2 separate regions of the Homo sapiens genome follow, and region 1 is linked to region 2. A link means that fine-mapping ties the variant in region 2 to the expression of a gene that starts in the linked region. Tissue or cell type: monocytes after R848. Region 2 holds a variant in brackets; the other region holds the start of a gene. All regions are shown on one strand. Distances are from middle to middle.

Region 1 (8,100 bases), 180 kb after region 2:
TCCATGCTGAGCCTCAGTTTCTCCACCCTAAAAATGTAGGATCAAGGGAGACCTCTCAGGGACATTGTAAGAGCTGAGAATGAAGTCTCTGAGCATGAAGGAAAGCCCTTCTTGCTACGGCTGTGGTTTTCCCCAGAATTCAGGGGGTCCCCTCCAAATTACAGAGCTGGGAGCTCATTCGCCTCCTCTCTCACGCCCCCACTTCTACACACACCCAGCAGTAGAGATGAGCAGTTGGGGAGAGCCTCCATCTTTGGCCTTCCTGAGACTCCCAGGCCTACTGGGCCGGCTCTTTCGCTGGGCTCCGTGACTGGCTGTTCTGTAAGGTCTGGTTTGCTATCAGAGCCGGTGAAAGGGCAGAAAGAAGGGTGGAAAGGAGGGAAAAATGGATCTCCGGGTTAGCCAACGATGGGACCTGCGGCTTCCCTTCCCCAACTGAAGAGGGCCCAGGAGTGAAGGAGTCTGCTGGGAAAGGGCTCCCCAACTTCATGCTCTAGGGACCCGCTCACTTTGAAGGCGCCCCATGAGTGGGGGAGGGGCGAGGGGAAGGGAGATGCTATTTCCACTTTCAGCGAGCCGCAGCGTGCGCCCTGCACCCCTAGCTGGCTTAAGAGCTGTGCAGCCTTCTCTGCTCACCTCTGCTAAGGGCCAGATGTGCTCTGGCAGTCGGCAGTAGCGACCCCTTCCTGGGAACAGAACTTTCCTCCGGAGGCCAGGGTCTCCTCATCTGCAACTGCCATTTGCCACACACACACACACAAAAGTTGGGAGAGAATGTGAGAATGCTTGTGTTCGTGGACGCGTGCGCACGTATGGAGCGGCGGTACCTATGATTATTTGCGCGTGGCGCCTGGCTATGCGTGGGCGAACGCGCAGTGGAGAACATGTGGGCGTGCATGAAGTGTGCACTTAAACCAAAGTGTGCCCTCCCCGTTGGGCAGGCCTGTGTGTTGGTCCAAGGGTTGGGAGCGCCTGAGCTGTGTGAGGGTCGCTGGGAAGGGTGTTTGAGGCCGTGGGCGGTGCGGAGCGTGTCTGTGTGCGCGGAGGCTGAGCTGGTTGTGTGAAGTGGTAGCGGGTCTGCCAGAGAGCGTTTACCTGCGTGAATGCACAACCACACACTACGGGTCACGTCCCACACTCATTCTTTCCCTAGGCGGGCCAGGCTGTCTGCACGCGGAGACCCAGAGAGGCCAGCGGAAGGGCAGCGCGGGAAGGCGGCTCTCTTCTCCCGCGAGCGCAGATCTGGCGGAGGAGGCGGCGACTGCCCGGCAGGCTGCGCCGGCGAGCCCCCCAGCTCCTCTCACCGACGTGCCAGGCGCCCCGAAGGCGACAGGCGTCTCCCGCCGAAAATGAAGGCGTCCGAGCCAGGAAGGTGGGGGCGGGTAGTTAGCGGGAGACAAGGAGTCCGGAGAAAACCGAGAGGCGGGTAGGCTTTGAACGCGCCGCGCCGCGGGCCGTGCTGCGAGCCCGGCACACGCCTCTCGCCCCAGCTCGCGCTGGGGCTTGGCCTCTAGGCTCTTCGCGATGACCCGCGAAAACACCCCTCGCCCCCCTCTTCTCAACTCGGAACCCTGGAGGGAGAGGCCGCGCCCGGCCAGCAGTCGCTGCGAGAGCAGCACTCACCTGGGTCTGTGCGCGCCGCGATGCGCCGGGGCTCCTGCGCTGTCCTGCGCTCCGCTCTCGGCACCACCTTTCGTGGCTCCACCGCCCCCAGCCCGCACCCGAGCGCTGAGGTGGCAAGGGCAGGTCTGCGTGCGAGCCCCCTGCGGGCTGGCAGCCAGGTGCGCGAGGGCCGCCCTTGCCGGCGCTCCCAGCCCGCGCTGTCTGCTCTCAGGAACCTGGCCTGGCGCGCAGTGTCAGAGGCCCCGCGGCGGCGGCAGGCCGAGCCCACAGGGGCATTAGGCCAACTCCCCCCTCCCGCCCTGCGCACGCGGAATTCTCTATTATTATTATTAAAGAATCCCCCAGAACTTGTTTACGTTAAACCCTGTAAACTTCCTGCCAGGGCCTTTGCCATCTCTCGGGAAATCGGAACCTGCGCTTTGAAAACGGGGCCGCGGGGCCAAATAGGCGGGTTTTCAGTGTGTGTTGGGGGTGGGGGAGGGCAACTGAACTACGTGTGAGTTCAGATCCGAGCGTGGCGTGTGTACGCGTGAGTGGGAGTGAGTGCGAACTTAAGCTCCTGTGGGCCTTAAGCTTCCGTGTCAACGAGTGCATTAGTGGGTGCGCACATGCCTGAGCGCCCTCTGCATATGAGTGTGCACACACGCATGGGTGTGTTTACACGTCTGTTTGCGTAATTTACCGGGTTTGCATGTGCATCAAGACATGTATGTGTGTGCTAATGTGTGGACAAGAGCGCGAGGGTGTGCGCGCACGGGTGAGTGACTGAGCACGCCGCTTATTCAGGGGCCTGTGCGGTCTGGGTCGCCTCTGGGCCAGCGGGTTCTCACTCGCCCCCGTCAGGCCCGCGGCGCCCGAGACAAAGCGGCCGCGACTCGTGCTGCGCTTTCGTTTTCCGCCTGCGCTCTGCCCCGGCGGCTGCCCGCCCGCTCGCAAGCTGCTGGGCGAGTCCGAAAAATCCCGGGAGCGGCGCAGTTCTTCCCGGGGCGGGGAGAGTGGGTAGGCGGTCCCTCGCGGGAACTTAGCCGGCCGGCCGCGAGGACCGGAGTCGAGCCGGCTGTGCCTGCGATGGTCACGACCGGGAGGCCGCCGCACTTGCGATTTGCTACAGGGCTGTGCGCGTCGGGGAAGGCCCCGGCCCAGGGAGCGTTTCCCGCCGCGCCGCCCGGGCGGGGAAGGCGGGGTCCAGCGCGCACCGGGGCTGAACCGCGGGCGGAGGGCGCATTAACACTTGCTCGCCAGGTTGGTGGAGGCGGGGCGGATTCTGCTGGCGGCCGCGGGGCGGCGAGAGTGGGGGCTCTTTAAGCGCCCACCAACGCGGGGGCCCGAGGGGGGCAGGGACGGAGGGAGGGAACTCCGGGAGGGTCTTAGGCCGACCCGCGAGACGCAGCCGAGCGGAGATGGAGTGAAGGCTGCCTCGCCCGGAATCTCGGAGCCGAGCGCCGCGGGCGGCGGGGACTCAGGGCTGCTCCCGGCTGGGGCGCACGGCCGTAAGACCTGGAGGTGGTGCCTCCCCCCAAAAAATACCGGCGGGGGTAGCTTCCTCACGGCCTTCGCCCGGGCTGCCCTCGGCCTCAGCTCGGCTCCTTTCCTTGTGGGAGGGCGAGAAAGAAAGAGGGAGGAGAGAGGTGGGGGAGGCGGGAGTTGGAGAGAGAGGGGCTCTGAGCCAACCGCCGGCGGATCCAGCAGCTCCTCGGGGAGGGCGGGCGGGAGCGCGGGGGCGGGCGCGCCGCGGCTCGCTCGGGAGAAGTGGCCGCCGATGACGGCAGAGGTGCAGCCAGCCCCGCGCGCGCAGCCCCCTCCCCTTCGCCCTCCTCCCCCCCGTCGTCCTCTTCCTCCTCCTCCTCCTCCTCCTCCCGGCCCGTCCGCGGCGCAGAGCAGCGGCGGCAGCGGCGGCGGCGGCAGCAGCCACCCGATGTCTTCGGCGCCCGAGAAGCAGCAGCCACCGCACGGCGGCGGCGGCGGCGGCGGCGGGGGAGGCGGCGCGGCCATGGACCCCGCGTCGTCCGGCCCGTCCAAGGCCAAGAAGACCAACGCCGGCATCCGGCGCCCGGAGAAGCCGCCCTATTCCTACATCGCGCTCATCGTCATGGCCATCCAGAGTTCACCCACCAAGCGCCTGACGCTGAGCGAGATCTACCAGTTCCTGCAGAGCCGCTTCCCCTTCTTCCGGGGCTCCTACCAGGGCTGGAAGAACTCCGTGCGCCACAACCTCTCGCTCAACGAGTGCTTCATCAAGCTACCCAAGGGCCTTGGGCGGCCCGGCAAGGGCCACTACTGGACCATCGACCCGGCCAGCGAGTTCATGTTCGAGGAGGGCTCCTTTCGGCGGCGGCCGCGCGGCTTCCGAAGGAAATGCCAGGCGCTCAAGCCCATGTACAGCATGATGAACGGGCTCGGCTTCAACCACCTCCCGGACACCTACGGCTTCCAGGGCTCGGCCGGCGGCCTCTCGTGCCCGCCCAACAGCCTGGCGCTGGAGGGCGGCCTGGGCATGATGAACGGCCACTTGCCGGGCAACGTGGACGGCATGGCCCTGCCCAGCCACTCGGTGCCCCACCTGCCTTCCAACGGCGGCCACTCGTACATGGGCGGCTGCGGCGGCGCGGCGGCCGGCGAGTACCCGCACCACGACAGCTCGGTGCCCGCCTCCCCGCTGCTGCCCACCGGCGCCGGTGGGGTCATGGAGCCGCACGCCGTCTACTCGGGCTCGGCGGCGGCCTGGCCGCCCTCGGCGTCCGCGGCGCTCAACAGCGGCGCCTCTTATATCAAGCAGCAGCCCCTGTCCCCCTGTAACCCCGCGGCCAACCCCCTGTCCGGCAGCCTCTCCACGCACTCCCTGGAGCAGCCGTATCTGCACCAGAACAGCCACAACGCCCCAGCCGAGCTGCAAGGTGAGTGGGGAGGCCGAGGGCGCCCTGGTCCCCGGGAAGTCGAGTCTGAGTGGCAGCGGGACCCAGCTGGGGCGAGCCCCTCCACTTCTGTGGTCGGAACCCCAAGGCTGAGGGGAGGCACCAGCTCCCCAAGGTGTCTCTTGGCCCCACCTCTCCCCCTTCGAAGAGTGACTACCGCTCTTGACCCTAGTTTGGGCCAATCTGTTTCTCTTTCTGTTCGAACTCCAGCTGCCAGCTGCTCCAGGCCTGACCAGGTAGGCTGGTCCTGAGCCAGATGTCCCAGACCCCAGTGCCCTAAGTCCTTTTGTGTCCCTTAAGTCCCCTCACAGCTTGGAAAGATCCTGGGATGGACCCAAGGCTCCCAGCGCTGGCCAGATGGCTGTCCCTCCCTGGTGGTGGCCCTCAGGCTGCCTGGAGGGCTGCCTCTGCCTGGGGCTGGGCGGAACGGAAGGTGTTAGGCCCAAAGCCGCTGGGCCAGCGCTCAGAGGCTCAGCCCCGGCCTTTCAGGGGACCAGACCTGGCAGACCCACAGCTGAGTCCAGGGGCATTTTGTGGTGACTGAGGCAGGAGGGTGCCGTGGCCAGGCCCCGGAGGGTCAGAGCTGCAGACCGGGCCATGGGGGCTCCTTGTTTTTTAGGATCCAAGTTTTCAGGTCCCCACACCCCCAACACCCCTGATACCCCAATACCCCGAACATGCAGAAGCATCTGCCAAGGGAGATGCAGCAGCCTCGCCTCCTGATTCTGCCCCAGGCCCCCCGCAGCCTGCAGGCCCAGCTCTGGAAAAAGCTGGAGTGAGCTTGCCAGGGCCAGTCCAGGGTCAGCTGTCAGCAGCCCCAGGAGGCAGGAGCCAGGCCTGGAGGCCTTAGGCAGCCTCTCTGCGGGGGACTCCCCGGCTCCGGGGCCTGTTCTCTGGAGAAGCTTCTTCTCACCCCTGCTGCTGGCCCGGCGCTGGCCCTGCACTGGCCTCTCCTTCAACCCCGCCGGCAGTCGTAGCCTCTGAGGTTGGGGGTGGTGGTGGCTGCCCTGGCGGTGACGGCCATGGGCGTTAGGGGCCCTCCACTTGGTCTCCCTCACCACTTCCCCTATGGCTCTGGAAGCCCTGGGCCCCTGCACGGTGTCCGAGGCTGGACAGGCACGCAGCAGGCAGGCAGGCAGGCAGGCAGGCAGGCCGTGGCAAGTGTTCTGGAGTCTTTTCCTTGGGTGCGCAGCTGGAAGGCCGGGACTCGGGGAGGAGAGCGGGGAGGCGGCCGTGCTCTGGAGCCAGGCTGACAGGCCCTGTGCGCCCCACGGGAGCACTGCTCCTCTGCCTGAACTCTGAGCCACCGTGGCTAACTCTTCTGCTCCCCCAACCCCTCCTGTCGCCTCGCCTTGCAGGCATCCCGCGGTATCACTCGCAGTCGCCCAGCATGTGTGACCGAAAGGAGTTTGTCTTCTCTTTCAACGCCATGGCGTCCTCTTCCATGCACTCGGCCGGCGGGGGCTCCTACTACCACCAGCAGGTCACCTACCAAGACATCAAGCCTTGCGTGATGTGAGGCTGCCGCCGCAGGCCCTCCTGGTGCAGGCAGGCGGGTCACAGGGACCCTGGACCGGCACAAGAAACTGCTTTCTTCTCGAGGTATAACCGTCGGCAGAAGAAAAGGGTTCCACCTCTCCCCAACCGGAGTTTTTGGCAAGGAGTCCCCAATGCAAAGACACAGCGCTGCGGTTGGCACCTCCTTCCTCACTCCTTCAAAATTGTTAAGAAATGTTAGTGGTGGGTCTGATCTGACTGCAGCCATCGGTAAATAAAAGTTTTTGATCCTGTTGAACCCGCCTGAGACGGTGCTGTGCAGGGGAAAGCCCCCGCACCCACACAGGAATTCTGCTGAGGTCCCCCCTCCTTCCGGCCAATGGCAGAAGTGGGGGAAAATTTTTAGAAGAAAAGCAAACATGTGAGACCAATCATTATCAAATACTTTTATTTTTTGGTTGAGTATTTATCTTTTTATTTTTTATTTTTTTTTTGAAAGAATGTCTTGGAATGCGCAAGTCTCCCTTTAGAGCCGTCTTTTGCAGGGAGCGGGAAGTGACAAGAGCTCAGATCTCCCTCCCGATCTCCCTCCCCACCTCCGAAGTCTCCTCCGTGGACCACAGGTGGATCTTTGTGCGAACAACTTGCATTTCGGAAGCCACTGTCCGTCTTTAAACAGAAAGTCAAAGGAGCCACGAAGCAAGCGGCCGTCCGGGCGTCCGCCTCCGTCCCCTTCCATGTTCCTCCTCTTCCTTCGCTTCAGCCTCTTCTGTTATGTTTTGTCTTGAATTTTATTTAGACTTTTTCAGTGGGTATTTTTCTGTCTCCCAACCTCTACTGTAAACTTTCTGGTCCGAGAACGAGCCGAACACAGCGCGACGCAGGGACTAGGACGGCCCGGTGACCGCGCGGATTCAGGATTGCGGGGACGCAGAAAGGTTAAGGCACTTTTAAAAACTATAGCAAGGCTCCTGTTTATTTATTCTACTTTCTTTCCCTAATAATCAAAACACCGCGTAGGCTCCTCCGTTTATCAGTATTAATGGTGTAACTTTGTTGGCAATATTTGCCGTGTAGAATTTTTTTTAGATATCCATTGTAAATTTGAAACAAAGACCGATCTGTGTAAAAACAAATTTCCATATGTTTTATATAAATATATATATAATATGAAGGACTACCCTCCTTTTTTTTTTTTGTATTTTGGCTGCTAGAGTGCAGCATTTGTGACACGTATTTGAAATTTGAAATTTCCTTCTGCACTGTATAAAAGGACCATTTGAGGATGTTTTGCCTTTTGTGTATTTTTTCCTAAAAAAAGAACAAAAATAAAAATGTATAACATTTGTACATGGCCTTTAAAATTGTATCAACTAGAAATAAAATTGCATGAGTATTTTATTGGGACTGAGATTGTAGAATACCTTCCAGACTCCCAAAGATAGAGGGGGGAAAAAAGAAAAAACAGGCTTTGGATCTCTAGACGCTTAAAAATTTACAATCTGGGTGATTCTGAGTACTTTTTTCTTTTTTGGCAAATCCTCCTCTTTTCACTCTTCATTCCACTTTGAAGTAAACGCTGGACAAGAGGAACTATTTTTCTTGGCTTCTGTTTTTTAAGAAGAGCCCTTTGCCCCTCTAAATGTCATTGATCGTTTTAAAGAAATAAACTTTTAAAGAACACTATAGACCTCCTTCCCCTAGGGAACACCAATTAAACCATATATGTGCACATACATATGGATATACATATATATGTATATACATATATGTACATATATGTATACGTGTCCATGTACATAATATATATTTTTTTGCCACTACAAGACCAATGAGAGTTTTACTTTGGGTTTCCGACTTTCTTGTTCTCTTGCTGTAGCTGTTATAAATCGTGAATCAACTTTAAGGTTTTTTTGTAGTTGTTGGTTTGTCTTGTTTTGTTTTGGCTTTTTGGTGCCTTGTTCTTGGTTTTCCCCGATAGAAAATCAAGCAAAATCTAAATGAGGCAAAAGGGCGCTTGGTGGGCCAGGTGACAGGCACCTTTCCAATCCTGTAACATTTATCTCCT
Region 2 (8,100 bases):
GAGGTTATTTTTGTGTGCCAGTGCATGCATGCGACCATATTTGATAAGGTATTTCCTGGAGGTGTTTGCGAAAGTCCATCCAAGCCAGGGGGTCGCTGAACCTCAGGAACTGACCAGCCCCTCCTCCAGCAGAGTGCCGTAGGGGAAAGAGAATTCCACATGGACCCTATTTTTGTAGCATTTTCCCTGAAATAGGAAGGCAAGATTCTGTCTCATGTTGCATGCTGGTGGCTTTCCCTCCCGCGAGCACTCCCACCCTCTGAAGGAAGGACTTCCCTTGGCCTCTTGCTTCCTTAGCAGATTTCCTCAGGCCCTCGCTCAGGGGAATGCCGACTCCGCAGGAAGACACCCGCGACCAAGGCCTGCCCCAGGCCCTCGCTATCTGACCGTGGATCCCACTTGAATCCTTTCCGTTCCTCTGGAAGGAGCGGAGAGGGCTTTGCCCCGTAGAATCATCAGAGATCGGATGGTCTCAGCTTTAGCTCAAGGAAGATGCCCCTCAAATGTGCTTCCTCCAAGCATCTAGGGACCTGATGGGAGGTGGTGCATCCTGCCTGTCCCATGGAGGACCCTTTGATGAGGTGTTTGGCTCATTACCCACCACTTTGGGAAGTTGCAGGGTGCATCAGGGCGGAAGCAAGGGCATGGGGTCTGCTGTCGAACTTCCGCTCTCCCTTCTGGCTACGGATTGAGGCTTGCTGGGTTATCTGGGAAGGGACCGCACGGGTTGCCTGACGAAATAAGGACGCCCAGGTACATCTGCATTTCAAGTAATAATAAACGTTTCTTACAATAGCATGAAACATACTTTTATAAATGTGGTGTGTTGTTTATCTAAAATTCAACTCTACCTGGGCATTCTGTATTTTTATTTGCTGAATCTGACAACTCACACAGTGTCAAAAAACTGGCACACGGTAGGCTCACAGAAAAGCATTTCCTTCACGATGTTTGTCCATTAAATAGATATTTTTTGTGAGCCTACTGGCCACGAGGTCCTGGGGACACAGCAGGGAATACCACAGTATCAGTTTCTTATGCCTGCCCTAACAAATTCCCACAAATCTAGTGGCAGAAACAACACACATTTATTAGTTTACAGTTCTGGAGGTCAGAAGTCCAGCACAGGCCTCACTGGGCTAAAATTAGGGTGTTGACAGGGCTGGTTCCTTCTGGTGGCCCCAACGCAGCGTCTATTCCTTGTCTTTTCCAGAGACTACCACGTTCCTTGGTTTGTAGCCCCTTAATCTTCAAAGTCAGCAGTTGCATTTTGAGTCCTTCTCATGACACCATGACTGGTTCTCTCTTTTGTCTCATTCAGGATCATCTCCCTACTTTAAGGTCGGCTGATTAGCAACCTTCACTCCACCTGCCACCTTAATCCCTCTTTGCCATGGCACCTAGTGGAATCCCAGGTTCCAGGGATTAGGATGCAGATGTCTTGGATGGCATCACCTGCTAGCACAGGTCCCTTTTCCCTCCTCCTGTCCATGCCCAGCCCCTCTCCCAACCCAGAGGAACCAGGCACCAGCTTGGCTTCGGGGCCTGGAGAGAAGTCCTTGAGTGATGGCAATGGTGACACCCATGATAGCAATGAGAGCAGCAGTCACAATGACGGACCAGATGGCTCTCCAAGCACAGACGCTTCTGTGAGTGTTTCTTTCTTTCACCACCCAGTGATCCTGTGACTTGCTGGGTTCACACAGCCCGAGTGAGTGGGGATGTAATGGTGCATTATCAGGCTCAGAATCCCAAGCTTTCCCTCCACACCGCAGTCCACAGGACCACGAGTTTCCTCGTGGCAGGGACCATGCTCATCTTTGTGAGTAGACAGGCTGCTTCAGCCAAGAGCAATGATCTGGACTCAGAGCTCAGGGCCAACTCCTGCTGGATGTAAACCTGGGGGACAGGGGATGGGGGGGTTCGTCATCCATCAACCGGGGGTCCATAGCCCACCTTGCCGGGTTGTTGTGAGGATTAAATGAGGTTATCTAAGGGTTTCCTGAGACATTGAGAGCCTCAGCAAACGGGAGTCAAGATTAAGACTCTGCACCCAGTCTTCCCCATGTGTCTGTGGGGCACGATCCTTGTGGTGTGTGCTGTGCTGTGGGAGGGATTGAGTGCACTGAGCAAAGAACATCCACTCTCCAGCGTGAGTGCTTAATTCCATGCAACAAACCTTTCTGTGCTCCTACTGTGTGCCAGGCTCTGGGTGAAGTGCTGAGGACTCGAAGATGACTTAGGTTCAAGGCTTTGCCCTTTCATCTATGCAAATTACAGATAAAGTCAGATTGCCTCCAAATAATTTGATAAGGCCATCATTATTATTATAAATAAAAAGAGTAATAACACCTAATATGTTGAGAATTTGTACGTGACAGTCACTATTCTAAGCAATTTTCCTGGACTGCCGCATTTCCTTACAGGGACCCGGGTGGGAGGTACTATTCTTATCCCTATTTTACAGATAAGCAGGAAATTGTTGCTCTGCATGGTTACCTAGATGGTTCCAGGTCAAATGGCTAGAAAGGAAGGGAATCAACATTTGAACCCAAGACCAGGAGTAAAAAGGGCTTGCAACAGGAAACATAATCGGGGGTGCAGCTCCCATGGGACACGAACTCTCTACTGAAGCTGAATATGAGCACAGCCTCCCACCTGGAGATTCCACATTTAGGCACAATTGCAAGAAAAATGTGTCCACGTCCACAAAAGGACCATCACCAGAGCATTCGGGCATCACTGTTTGTAACAGCCAATGACCAGAAACTCCTTCAATGCTTTTCAACACTAGGATGGATCAGTGAATTATGGGATAGGTATGCAGAGGAATATCATGGAAAAATGAGAATGCACAAATCTTGCCACACACAACAGCAAGGGTGCGTCTCCCTAATATAACACTTACCAAAGGAATCCAGGCACCGAAGGGTATGCCCTGTGTGACACCCTTTAAAATGCTCACAACCAGGTGCACAGGTCTCCATTTGCAGGGGCGTCAAGCTGGGCTGCAGCTGCTTTCCCCTGCTTGGTCCCAGGTTGGAGTTGGTGGGAAGAGGAAAGTGAGAGGGATCTGGAAGTTGGAAGTGGAGCAGCTGCCACGACCCCCGAAAGTCCTTGTGGCTGTCCTGGGGAGAGACAGGCAAGGAGGTGCTGATTGATGACAACTTGCTCTTGTTCTCCCTGTCTCCCCAACTGTAAGCCTCACTGACCACCAGTGACCCAGGGACCACCAGTCACAGAAGCAGCTGTGCCCCGCAGACCCCTCCACTGCCTCCCGTCCCCATTCTCCACGTGCCAGCCGGCTTTCTGGATTTCCCTGCAAGCTGCACTCACTGATGTTTCTGGAAGCCTCCTTGGGGAGGAACTTGCTTCTGAACCCCCCTAGTTCCTCCCACAATTGCGGAGGGTCTAAATCCCTGTCATAAATCTGTTATTCCACACCACTCGTAGTAGTTCTGCCTCCCTCATTGGCTGGGGCGTCACAGGCGTTATCAGGAGGTGGGAGTGGCAGCCAGGAGGGGCACCGGAGCCTCTGGGCTGAGGGGCTGGCTCCAGGGCAGGGATGATTTCACAAAAATTCACTAAGCTGCATGCCTGTGATTTGCATACTTGTCTGTATTTTTGTTGTATTTCAACATGCAATCTTTAAAGGGTGTTTTAAAGGGTGTT[T/C]TGCTATCACAGTCACTTTTATCATGATGCATATTAAGTTCCCAAAACAGAGGCAGAAGGCACAGAAAATGGTTTCACTTGATGAGTCTGCCAGACTCCTGGGCTGGGATGAGCAGGGCAGGGACCGCCTTATCTTCTGTGAATTCCCAGGGCCTGACTGCCCCTAACCCAGGGTGGGGCTCAGTGAAGGCCACTGTGAGGAGGCTGGGTGCACACAGCGGGGGAACCGGTACAGAGGGGGCCTGGGTCAGAGGGGGCCTGGGAGGAGGGAAGACGGGGATGGGGAAGGGATGGTTCCCATCTCTTCGGGAGGAGAGCCTTGAGTGGCTTGTCCTTTCCATTTTAAGAGTCTCTTATCTCAGAGGACATTGCCCAGAGCAAGGGACGGCACTCAGAAACTCATAAACCGCTTTCCCACCAGCTCTTCCAGGGACCCTGAGAAAGACCCTCACTTTGGGATTGAGGGGCGGAGACCAGGGGGATTCTCCGGACTCTGGCTCTCCTGGGTCTGAGTGAAATTTCAGCCTCTGGGGTCTCAGCTTCCTGCTAAGAAATGGCTTTTGTTTCTTCAACAGTTACTGAAAGAGGATTGCTATGGGTCAGGGGCTGTTCTTTCTCGGCCAAAATGGACAAACCTGTATCTCCCAAGGATCCCTGTCTAGGAAGGAATACAAAATAAGTTTCTCTGCAAATTACATATATAATTTTTTATATAATTAATATACATATGTTAGATTTTATATATAATTAATATGTAATTACATATCTATACATATATTTGCATACTTTGTATATTTATTTTTTACCACCTTCTCTACTTTCTGTGCAGGTCCTGGTGCCACCCTCTGTCACCTGGGTCATCACAGTAGCCCAGAACGCGCCTCCCTGCTAGCGCCTGGCCTGCCACTGGTCAGTTCTAACACAGCAGCCAATGTGATTCTTTAACACCTGAGTTGGGTCCCATCTCGGCCCTGCTCCGAACCCTCCAACAGCTTCCAACTCAGCCAGGTGTAATCTGAGGCTCTTAACAGGGCCCAAGGCCTCCCCGAGCCAATCCCACCTGCCCCTCCCCCTCGCTGCGTCCACTCCGGCCTCCTGCCTGCCCCTGGATGGCCCCTGCACCTCTGGCCACGGCACCATCTCTGCACTGGCTCCTCTTGTCTCTGCAGGAGTGCGGAGATCTGGGGATCCAGTAGTGGCCACCCCTCCCTCCCTTCAGGCCCTACCTAAACAACATCACGCAGCACCCGCAGTCTCCAGCCTGTTTCCCTGCCTTATTTTCCTTCGCAGGACTTGACACCCGCAGGCCCGGGGCCTCATGGATTGTGGGTCCTCCCGCACTGAAATGGAAGCTTCCTGAGGACAGGGTCTTTGCTGGCTTCTCCCGCATAGAGACCAGGGCCTGGAATGCACTGTAGCTGCTAAAGAAATATTTGCTGGCCTAATGAATGAATGAATGAATGAATGATTCATCCTTGCCCCGCCCCTTGCTCCCTCCACCCACCCTCCCCGGCCTCTGGGCCAGTGGCTGCCATTTCCGATGAATGTGAATAGATGGTCTCCTGGGAGCCGCCTTTTCCTGCTAGACTTCCAAGGGCCTGTGTTCCCGAGACAAAAGGGCCTCTGGCCCACTTGCCATCCCTCCCAGCACACAGGCTTATGAAGGGCGAACACCCTGGGACCTGGTGACTGTTAAAGCCTTTATCACCCTTTCCTCATAAACCTCTACTCTGAAACCAGCCAACCCCCTCATCTTTGCAAAGCTTTTCAGGGAAGGGTGGACGGCAGTGAGTTGTCTGCAAACTTTGAGTAGGATCTGAGCACAGGGTCCCTCCCTCCCGGTCTCCTTCTGCTCTGTGCTTTCCCTCTTTCTCTCCCTTCCCTTCCCCTGCCTGTCTCCCACCCCTTTTCATCTTCTGTCTGCTTCCTCCTGTGGGGACAGCAGAACCTATTCCAGTCTCCGCTGGGCTGGAAGCCCTCGGCCTCCATGGGGAGCCTGGGCCCCCAAGCCACAGGGAACAGCAACAGGGGAGTCAGCCTCCTCATCCCCACGCAAAGAGTGCTCAGCCCCTTCATCCCCACGCAGAGAGGGCTCAGCCCCTTCATCCCCACGCAGAGAGGGTTCGGTCTCCTCATCCCCACGCAGAGAGGGGTCGGCCTCCTCATCCCCACGCAGAGGGGGTTCAACCTCCTCATCCGCACGCAGAGAGGGCTCAGCCTCCTCAGTCCCACGCAGAGAGGGTTCAGCCCCTTGATCCCTACGCAGAGGGGGCTCAGCCTCCTCATCCCCACGCAGAGAGGGCTCAGCCTCCTCATCCCCACGCAGAGGGGGTTCAGCCTCCTCATCCCCACGCAGAGAGGGCTCAGCCTCCTCATCCCCACGCAGAGAGGGCTCAGCCTCCTCATCCCCACGCAGAGGGGGTTCAGCCTCCTCATCCCCACGCAGAGGGGGTTCAGCCTCCTCATCCCCACGCAGAGGGGGTTCAGCCTCCTCATCCCCACGCAGAGAGGGCTCAGCCTCCTCATCCGCACGCAGAGAGGGCTCAGCCTCCTCAGTCCCACGCAGAGAGGGTTCAGCCCCTTGATCCCTACGCAGAGAGGGTTCAGCCTCCTCATCCCCACGCAGAGAGGGTTCAGCCTCCTCATCCCCACGCAGAGAGGGCTCAGCCTCCTCATCCCCACGCAGAGGGGGCTCAGCCTCCTCATCCCCACGCAGAGGGGGTTCAGCCTGGGCTGCAGGAAGCAAACCCCTGACCCGCTGCAGGCTGACCCCAGACACTGAAGGTTGTGCGGGCCTTAAGGCCGTGCTGGGAGATTCAGGGGGTGACACCCGGGGGCTCATTTCCTGAGCTAGGAGATGCAGGGGCGGGGAGTGGGGCACAGCGCTGCCAGCAGAGGCTGAGACGCACCTGAGAGGGGAGGAAGCTTCCGCTCTTCTGGCCTCCCGGATCCGCCAGGGCTCCTGCTGCTCCCACTTCCGCCACCCAGGAGGGCCAGGCCGCCGTCTTGAGTTTCCCTCCAGCCTGGCCTAGGGACGACTCTTCTTCAGTGCCGCCTTCTCCACCGAGTCCTCGCATATTAAGATTCCAGAAGGTTCTGATCTCCTGGTGCTTCAGTGTAAACGAGTGTGTTTGGGGATAGCTGTGGGAAGTCAGGGCTGAGAAAGGAGAAACACTCAGCTCCCCACACACGTTTGTCCCAGGAAACAATAGCCCTCCGTCCCCGCCCACCTGGCCTGTGGGGATCCACTCATTCTTTCACAGATATCCAGGACTGGGTTAGGGAGCCTGGTGGTGGCAGGAGGCCGCCCTCCAGCTCGCTGGCTGCCGTGTGGAAGTCCTTTCTCCTCGGATTCTGATCTAGGGACGGCCCACAAGCTCCTGGCGAGGATGAACTGAGTTCAGTGATGTCAAGCTCGGCACAGTGCCTGTCCACAATGAGCCCAATAATTTTTAGCTATTGTCACGTCGACGGTACCACCCACCTGGATGCCACTCACCTGGACACCATTCACCTGGGTGATGCCCCTCACCTGGACACCACTCACCTGGGTGCCACCACCTGGACACCACTTACCTGGATGCCACTCACCTGGACACCATTCACCTGGGTGATGCCACTCACCTGGACACCATTCACCTGGCTGTCACTCACCTGGGCACCACTCGCCTGGGTGCCACCACCTGGACCCCACTTACCTGGATGTGACTCACTTGGGCACCACTCAACTGGGTGCCACTCACCTGGGTGTTATGCACCTGGACAATGCTAGTCACGTGGATGCCACTCGCCTGGGTGTCACTCACCTGAATGCTACTCACCTGGGTGCCATTTACCTGGATGATGTCACTCACCTGGATGTCGTCACTCACCTGGATGTCACCTAGGTGCCACTTACCTGGATGATATCACTCACCTGGATGCCACTCACCCAGGTGTCACCTGGATAATGCCACTCACCCGAATGCCACTCACCTGGGTGCCACTCACCTGGAAGCTACTCACCTGGATGATGCCACTCACACAGACGCCACTAACCTGAATGTCACTCACCTAGGTGTCACTCACCTGGATGCTACTCACCTGGGTGCCACTCAACTGGGATGTCACTCACCTGGGTGCCACCCACCTGAACACCACTCACCTGGGTGTGTGAGAACAGTGGAAGTTCCTGGAACATAGTTGGCATTCATCCTTCCCAATGCTTGCTCTAGACGAGGAAGCCATGATGTTTGCTCTTCCATTCCCTCCCTCCTCTGAGTCCCCCTCCTCCCCAACCCCATCTCCTTTCTCCTTACCTCATACACAGCCAGCCCTTACATGGTTATTTCTTCATGTCATCTGCCACCTCTGGGCAGCCAGGCTCCCCCAGACTCAAGCCCTGCAAAGAGAGGGTAGGACCTGAACCACCTCACCTGGCACAGCCCA

What was found. PIP is the estimated chance that this variant, and not a neighbour inherited with it, causes the effect.
Region 1: FOXF1 starts here. The variant in region 2 is fine-mapped to the expression of FOXF1 in monocytes after R848 (Quach 2016, PIP 0.95).

What each region holds. Positions count from the first base shown.
Region 1 is chr16:86,507,032-86,515,131 of GRCh38, forward strand. It overlaps FOXF1 (forkhead box F1), which reads left to right and starts at 3,496. Exons shown (of 2, transcript NM_001451.3): 1 at 3,496-4,517; 2 at 5,894-8,100. The coding sequence starts at 3,539. The coding sequence ends at 6,054. It overlaps FENDRR (FOXF1 adjacent non-coding developmental regulatory RNA), which reads right to left and starts at 1,829. Exons shown (of 4, transcript NR_033925.1): 1 at 1,624-1,829. RefSeq lists an enhancer at 4,989-5,755.
Region 2 is chr16:86,330,780-86,338,879 of GRCh38, forward strand. LINC00917 (long intergenic non-protein coding RNA 917) reads right to left here. Exons shown (of 7, transcript NR_024406.1): 2 at 7,971-8,053; 3 at 6,903-7,882; 4 at 6,582-6,813; 5 at 2,909-3,128; 6 at 2,180-2,265; 7 at 1,071-1,899. Among named protein-coding and RNA genes, the nearest start is that of LINC00917, 11 kb to the right of the region's middle. RefSeq lists a silencer at 6,444-6,738 and an enhancer at 6,563-7,494. The variant T/C (reference allele first, on the strand shown) is at 3,673.